Homo sapiens: one gene and its partner. The protein of the gene in region 2 interacts with the protein of the main gene of each other region in a pairwise test. Each region holds a gene or a part of one and is shown on either strand. Other genes may lie near its edges.

The links. Proteins that work in one complex are often made in the same cells at the same time.
Region 1: the proteins of KHDRBS3 (region 2) and BAHD1 interact in binary tests that used the Homo sapiens proteins (3 or more experiments, as listed by UniProt).

What each region holds. Positions count from the first base shown.
Region 1 is NC_000015.10:40,439,160-40,442,906, reverse strand, and holds the start of BAHD1 (bromo adjacent homology domain-containing 1 protein), read right to left. Parts: upstream 1,955-3,747; 5' UTR 1,639-1,954; intron 1,498-1,638; exon of another isoform or gene 1,372-1,497; intron 468-1,371; exon of another isoform or gene 1-467.
Region 2 is NC_000008.11:135,460,344-135,464,090, reverse strand, and holds part of KHDRBS3 (KH domain-containing, RNA-binding, signal transduction-associated protein 3), read right to left. Parts: intron 459-3,747; exon of another isoform or gene 203-458; coding exon of another isoform or gene 115-202; intron 1-114. UniProt on the Homo sapiens protein: RNA-binding protein that plays a role in the regulation of alternative splicing and influences mRNA splice site selection and exon inclusion. Binds preferentially to the 5'-[AU]UAAA-3' motif in vitro.

The DNA of each region.
Region 1 (3,747 bases), on a different chromosome or scaffold from region 2:
GGACAGTGGTGCCCCTCCAAGACATGTGGTCCCTCTGGGCCCTTTTTCTTTTTTTTTGTGGAAGACAGCGAGGTGAAGAGAGTAGGGAGGAAAGTCTCAGGTGGCACAAAGTAAAAGGACTGGAAAGCTTTTTATTTCATTATTAAATTCCTGCCTGGATTTATAAACTCAGCTTCTCATTTTTCTAAGTGGGTACCTTTGTGGCTAAGGAAAAGTGCTGGAGGCAGCTGCGGAGGGCTGGCGGGAGCCCACGGGGTGGGGTGTCTCTTGTCCTAATCAAACTAGTCTTCTGCACTTCTAACACTGTCGACAATGGGCGACTAGGAGATGTCCCAGGTGGGGTTAGACTTCTGCCTGTAGGCAGACTCTGCTTGTTGAAAAACCCCTCATTCTTGACAGGCTCTACAGCGGCTCACTGGGTCTGTCGCCTCGGTGAGTAGCAACCCCGTCGCCACCAGCCAAGGCACATCATGAGCATACACCCCCACCCCGGCCCCTCGGCCCCCGGCAAGTAGACCCCACTTCCCAGAGCCTCGAGGCCAACAGCGAGCGGCTAGAGCGGCAAGCCAGTGCCGCAGCTCCTCCCGGCGGGCGCCCCGGCCCCCGCAGTCCCCGGGGCAGAGTCCGGCCCCGTCGCCCGCCCCTCGGAGTGGGTGCCTCGGACCCGCTCCCCTCCCCGACGCCACCACCTGCGCCCGCTCCGGCGCCGCCTTTGTCCGGCGCTTCACCGCCAAGCGAGCCCCTCGGGCCCGACCTGACCCGGCCCCCAGCCCCAGAAGAGAGGCGGCGGAGCGAGCAGGGCAAGACCAGGCCGGGCCGCGAGCACAGGGTCCCGCTGTCACTTGGAGGCGGTCTGACAACTTCGATTCCCCCCGCCACACCTCGGACTCGGCCGCCGCCCCGCAAGGTCCCCGCAGGGCCTCCCGCGGCCCACACTCGCTTTTCGAACCGGTCCCCTTCCGTCTTCGGCGCCTCCCTTCCTCTCAGCCCGATCGAGTCGGGTCTACACTACTCCCCCCTGCCGCCCCCGGCCCGGCGCGGCCCTCATCCCCTGCCCCCCATCCAGCAATAACCGGTCAGCTCCCAGCGCGGGAGGGCGCCCCCCACCCTGAGCGGGCGATCCCGCGGCGCCGCCCCCGGCCGCGGCCCCTTGCCTCGGGGACCGCGATGGGGGAGGGGGCGCGGCGGGGGCCTCGCCGCCCGCGCACTCGGAGGCGAGCCGGCTCCGCCGCGGCGAGGAAAGACCGGCGTCCTCCCGCCCTCCGCAGCTCGGGACGCCCGCGCCGCCGCCGCCCGGCCGAGCTGCCACCCTGCGGCCGCCACCCACCCCGCCCCCGGCCTGCAAGGCGGGCGGCCCCCGGGGGCTGTCACCTCGAGGCGCGCCGCGTTCCCCGATGGCGGGACCGTGGTGCCGGACCCAGGGGAGGGAGGTGGCGCGAGCGGGCGGGCGGCCGCACCTGCTTCGCGTCGTCCGTCCGTCCGTCCCTTCCCGGGCTGGCGGGGGCGGTGGCGCGGCGCGCTCGGTGGGGCGCGCTGACGGGCGGCCGGTGCTCTCCCCCTTCGCTCTTCTGCCTACCTCGCTCGCTCCCTCCCTCCAGCTCGCCCCTTCCCCCTCCTCGACCCCGGCCCCTGACTCACCAGAACGGGCGGCGCGGACGGCGCGGCTCTGGGCGCCCGCAGGCCCCGGCCGGGCTGGAATCCGGCGGCTGGAACCCCCCGGGGGCGCTCAATTCCCGGGCTCCACGCTGCTGCGTCAGCGCCTCCTCCTGGGGGCCGGGGCCGGGCGGGCGGAGCGGGGACCGCGGCCGGGCGGGGCCGTCGGGGGGGGCGGGCGCGCCTGGCCGGGGCGGGCGGACGGCGGGGGCCGGACGGGCGGGGCAGGCAGCCGGACGGGCGGGCGGCGGGGGCCGGGCTCCGGGATCCGCTACGCCGCTCGCGGTTCCCCCACAAACTCCCCGAGAGCGGAGCCTCCGCCGCCCTCCTTCCTGCTTCCTCGTCCCCAGCCAATCAGCAGCGCGCCCCTCGGCCAGCTCCGCCAATCAGCCGCCCCGCCCTGCGCTGGCTCCGCCAGCCAATCCGGCCCTCGGCTCCCCCTCCCGGTCTCTGACCAATCAGAACCGTGGGTCGGTCGTCCCAACGCAGGGGGCAGCACGAGGCGGCCGGGGGAGGCGGTGCGGGGAGTGGTGGGGCCTTGGGGGAGGGGTGCCGTGCCAAGGGTGGTGGCAAGGGGTGATTTTCTTTGCCGGCTTCTTGGATTTTTCTCTTCGTCTTCAGAACCTGAGCCCGTATCCCACGGTGACTCGACCCCAATCTCCCAGCTGCTAGCCCCCCCGGAAAAATCTTATCTCCCCCCGCCCTGGCCATCACCCCTCCGCATCCCCTTTCCCCCAAATCCTCCCCAGCACGCGCTGGAGAAAACTGCGGGCCGAGGAACACCCCATCCTCGCCGGAGGCTGCTGCCCCCAGGGCAAAGCTTCAGGAAGACCAGCCGAAAATCAAGCGAGAACAACCCCCCTTTCCTGCAGAAAGGGCCCCAGACTCCTGCAAAAGGGCCCCGACTGCTGAGAAGCCCCTCCCGCCCTTGCCTCATCTTTCCGACTTCCCTGCCTGCCACGTCTCCTTTCCTTTCCAGCAAGGTCGGTCCTGGCTCGGTAACCCCTCACCCGCATCTCTTTTTCCTCTTTCTGCCCTTCACCTACCGCCCCCAACCCCAGCTCCTAATTCACCCTCTTCAGAAGCAGAGTGTGGAGCCCTCATCCATTTCCAGCTGACAGCAGAGCCTGGTCTGTGAGTCCTTGACACCCACACACCCTCTTCCACCACCGCGGGGAACATCAGAGCTCTCCGGGGGAGGGAGAAAGGGGCGGGCAGCCTGACAGGAGCGGCTGGACTCCCTCCCTCGCGTCCCCAAGCTACGGGAGAACCAAGTGTAGACACTTACCTGGCTTCCCCCTAGTCACCAAATGCTGTGGCTCCGTCTCTCACCCCCACAGACGTGCCCTCCCAAGCCCGAGCACGCTCGCGGGGTCAGTGGGGTGGGTGGGCACAGCAGGCTAAGGGCACAGAGAGAGATGGGAAGTCCCTGTTAGGTGCGGGAAGGAGCTGTGTCTTGGGCACCTGGTGGTGCCAGAGCCCGCCTAGGACTTCACTAAGCCCGGGATATGCACACAGTAGGTTCTCGAGAAATGCTGAGTTCACCCCTGAACAAAGCCTCATTCCCAATTCAGGCGGGGGAGGGGAGCTTTAGGAGGTAAAAGGAGCAGCGGCAGAAAGGGTAGTGTCAAGTCACCAGAGCGCTGGAGCAGCCCAGGGAGGGGCTGGGCCCCAGGAACGCCTTGGGCAGAGAGAGGCACCCAGAGTGCTGAGGCTGCCCAGGCAAGCAAGGAAAACCCAGCCTTGGAGTGTGGCCCAGGGGCTTCGGAGGGGCTCCTCCTGCACCACACACAGCGCCCAGCCTTTCCTAGACCTTGGGACTCCAGCGCTCACCCAGGCAGCCTTTTAAGACAATCAGGGCTGCTAGCCAATATGGCTGGGAAACAACCTCCCCCAGAAGCAGTTCCCCATCTGCCTCCAGAGCTGTCCAGGGGGCCCAGACTGTCTTAGCTGTTTGGGGGGACACACTTAAAGGAGGGGCCCCCTCAGCAGGGAAAGTGTGTGAATGGAAGCTAAAAGCTAAAACTGTGGCACGGAAATGTCTCGAAGGTCCAGGTTCTCCCACTGCCACTTCTCCCACCTCCCACCCTTGGG
Region 2 (3,747 bases):
CCTGACTACTTATAAGCTGTGTACCTTGACTGGGCAAGTTACTTAGTGTTTTTGAGCCTTAGAGGCCTCATTTGAAAAAAATAAAGGAGGCACGCAGGGAATAAAACCTCCTACCTTGCAAGATCTTGCGGGGATGGGAGAGAATGCACAGAAAGCAGCTGGCACGGAAGAGCCTCAAATTGGTGGCTTTTATAATCATCATCCCCAACGCCAAGGAACACTCTCCTTCTATTGTTTTGGTAGAAGATATAAGTCATTCTATCTTCACTCAGCGGGACTGGTGACAACAGGCAAATGGGGCTTTTGATATCAAAGTTGCTGTTGGCACTCAATTTGCGGTTTCAATCGCTCCTCTGGCTTTCGGAGTTTCCCTTTGGCATCTGAAACTGCGGATAACTCTCTCAGGTAAGAAACCTTATTTGGCATGTGACTAGGGCTTCCAAAATTCTGTTTTTAATCTGTCATGAGAAATATCATTAGGAGTTTAGAGAAGGAGAGCAAATTGATGAGAGTGCAGTGATTTCATAAATTCCTTAAGAAAGAATAAAAGTAAATAAACATCTGATTCAAAGCAGATCTGACAACATCTTCTCATTATCTCCTAGAGAAGGATCCCTACTGTGCAACCACATTTAAAGAGCACTGGGATGCTTTTCTGCTTGTTCAACCCTGCATTTCACTCAGAACCTTCTTTCATTGATATGGGCAGAACTGTTGACTTCATCCCCACCTCCAATTCAGGTCCTCTAAAGCTGTAAGAAGCAAAGCTCTTTACTGACTGCTAAATTCCAAATATACTTTCTGATTCTGCTACCCTTAATGATAATTAACACGTAACACTGAAATGAAGACAGGAGTTCCCAAGGGCCCTGTGCTCAGACGTATGCTAGGTGCTGAAGATACAGAGGAAAGACCAGGCCCTGTCTTCCGAGGAACTCACTCTTTACCAAGAAAGACAAAGATCCAAACAAAGCAGTGTGATGAGGATCACACCGTAAGAGCACCAGGTGTTATGTGACACCAGAAAACAGGCAATCCAACCCATTTTGAAAAAGGTCAGAGGACTTATCTTAGGGCAGAAATGTGAAGAATGAAGTATGAAAATGGATGCTATATAATTTATCTTTCAATTCAGCACAGGCTAGAGGAAAAACAAACTGCACATAAAAAAGCCAGGGTTTTGATTCTCCTTCTATCATTCACTAATTATACCATCACAGGTTGGCCAGTAACTTAGCCCTTTAGACTCTCAGTGTTACTGAGAGTCAGTAGGACATGGTAAAAAGAACAATGGACCTGTAAAAGAACAAAGCTTGACCCTTCACTCTGACATTTTATTATAAGCATGTCACCATGGGCAAGTCACTTTAGCTGTCAGAATCTTGGTTTCTACAACTGAAAAACTAGGCTAATAACCTCTCCATCTCTGAGCTGTTACCAGTATCGAGATTACAAACATGACCCAGTACCAACAAGTGCCTCAAAAATGTCCACAAGCTGATTTATTAACAGTAAATCTAAGCCATCCAATCATTAAATATTTCAGCATAGTTGAAGGACTAAGATGTTCCTTAGGAAAGAGGGCATCTACAAACCGAAAATTCATTCTCAAACGCACACAGAGGAGAGCAGGAGCTTCTCACCAGTGCAGACTGTTTTTCCTCCCTACCCCTGGGACCCAACACAGAGAACCAGCATGGCAGGTTCTCTATAAGCCTGTTACTAATGTCCAATACCAAAACCCTGTAACTCACAATCACTGGGTCACTTTTAATCATAATACACTGTATAAAACTCAGAAATGGCATATCTAACACTGTGAGTGATCGCATTTTCTTAAAAAAAAAAAAAAACTGATAACACAAAGAAAAACAATAAAAAACTAAAAACTAAATAATCACATCCTCCTTTGGATGAAACAGAAAATCACAAACTATAGCATGAAGGCACCATACCTAAATACAGTTCTGCAGTTCTCATTCTTACTCTCTACTTTACAAGTCTGTGACATTCAAGCAAATCCGAAATGTTTTCCAAAAGGGGTCCCCAAAAATCAAGTTTTAAGCCCCTGGGTTTTGTGGATTACAAAGAGATGTACATAAAATAATAATCCTTCCTTAATATATTTTTATCCTCCATATTTATTCTAAGTAATGCTAAGAATTGTAATATTTGAGAAACTGATATAAAAACCATTTTGATATACAAACAAAAAACTTTTATCAACCTAGACACAAATCTGGACCACCTTAATCTTGAATCCTCAGCTCCACTTTCTCTTGTAATCAACGACAACTAAATGTAACTTGGCAGTGAGCCAGCCACCAATCCATACATTATATCAGATAATTAAAAATACAGTGTTATGTAATCTTATTTAATGGTTACTTGGCTTGTATTGAAAACCATCCAAACCAATATCAGAGACTTGGATTAAATTATAATGCATAAGACATTTCTAAAGATGTTTTTTAGTAAGAGTCAGCACATCCCCTACTAGCAAATATAAAACATGCAACACCACTTTCATCTGCAATTAACCTCTCCTTGGCAAGAATTGCAATGTCAATTCACCCTACAGGCACCAAGGCGGGGTCCGGAGTGGGATCCCAAAGCCTATTTTCTTTGACTGACTTTTAACATCAAATAAACATTAACCACTAATTTTGTTAGAGAAACAAATTCAGAGGCCAGGCACGGTGGCTCACACCTGTAATCCCAGCACTTTGGGAGGCTGAGGCAGGCAGATCACGAGGTCAGGAGTTCGAGACCAGCCTGGCCAACACAGTGAAACCCCGTCTCTACTAAAAATACAAAAATTAACCAGGCATGGTGGCGCACACCTGCAGTCCCAGCTACTCGGGAGGCTGAGGCGGGAGAATCGCGCAAACCCAGAAGGCAGAGGTTACGGTGAGCCTAGATTGTGTCACTGCACTCTAGCCTGGGCAACAGAGCCTGGGCAACTTCGTCTCAAAAAAATAAATAAATAAATATTCGGGAAACAAATTCATTTAGGAGGTGGAGGAGGAGAACCAGTTATTCTGGTAAAATGAAAATAAAATCAGCAATCAGTGCCCACGATGAAACACAAGTCTGGAAAAATATAAAAGCCAATGTATACCAGACAGGAGTATATCTCTTATTGTCATCCTAGCTCAAGAAAGAAAAAGAGTAATTCAGTTAGGAAGTTGATCAATCTTTACGAACACTGAATTTTTAAAGAACGACTACACCTCATCTATAAACTGCTTCATTATCATAATGCATTGATTATTAAACTAATACACTAGTCACAGGAGGGCTTTAATTCAAAACTGCCTCTTGGCCTCAGCATCAAAATCCTGGAAGATAAATCTACCGTGAATGTTTGCTTCTTCAAAGAAGGCAAGTGCAGACAGAAACTTTCTGTAAAAATCAGGATAAACTTCCTAAAGGATATATACTATTTCCTACACATTTAAGTCAGTTGGAAACAATCATACTAATTATATTGATTTCTGCAGGGTCTGAAGTTAGCAAGTGAGAAGTATTTCATTCCAACATTTTAGGAAGCCAAAATAAGAAAGAACAACCTCTTCAGAGACAGAAGACCTGAGATTTCAAATTAAATCTCAGTTGCCCAAAAGCTTAGATAGCTGGGATCCTCAGCTGCCTTCCTGAAAAGAGAAGACATGAACATCTGCCTTACCGGAATGCAAGTGTGAGGACAAAACTAGTGCCTTGGAAACTTTAAAATACTATGCAAAT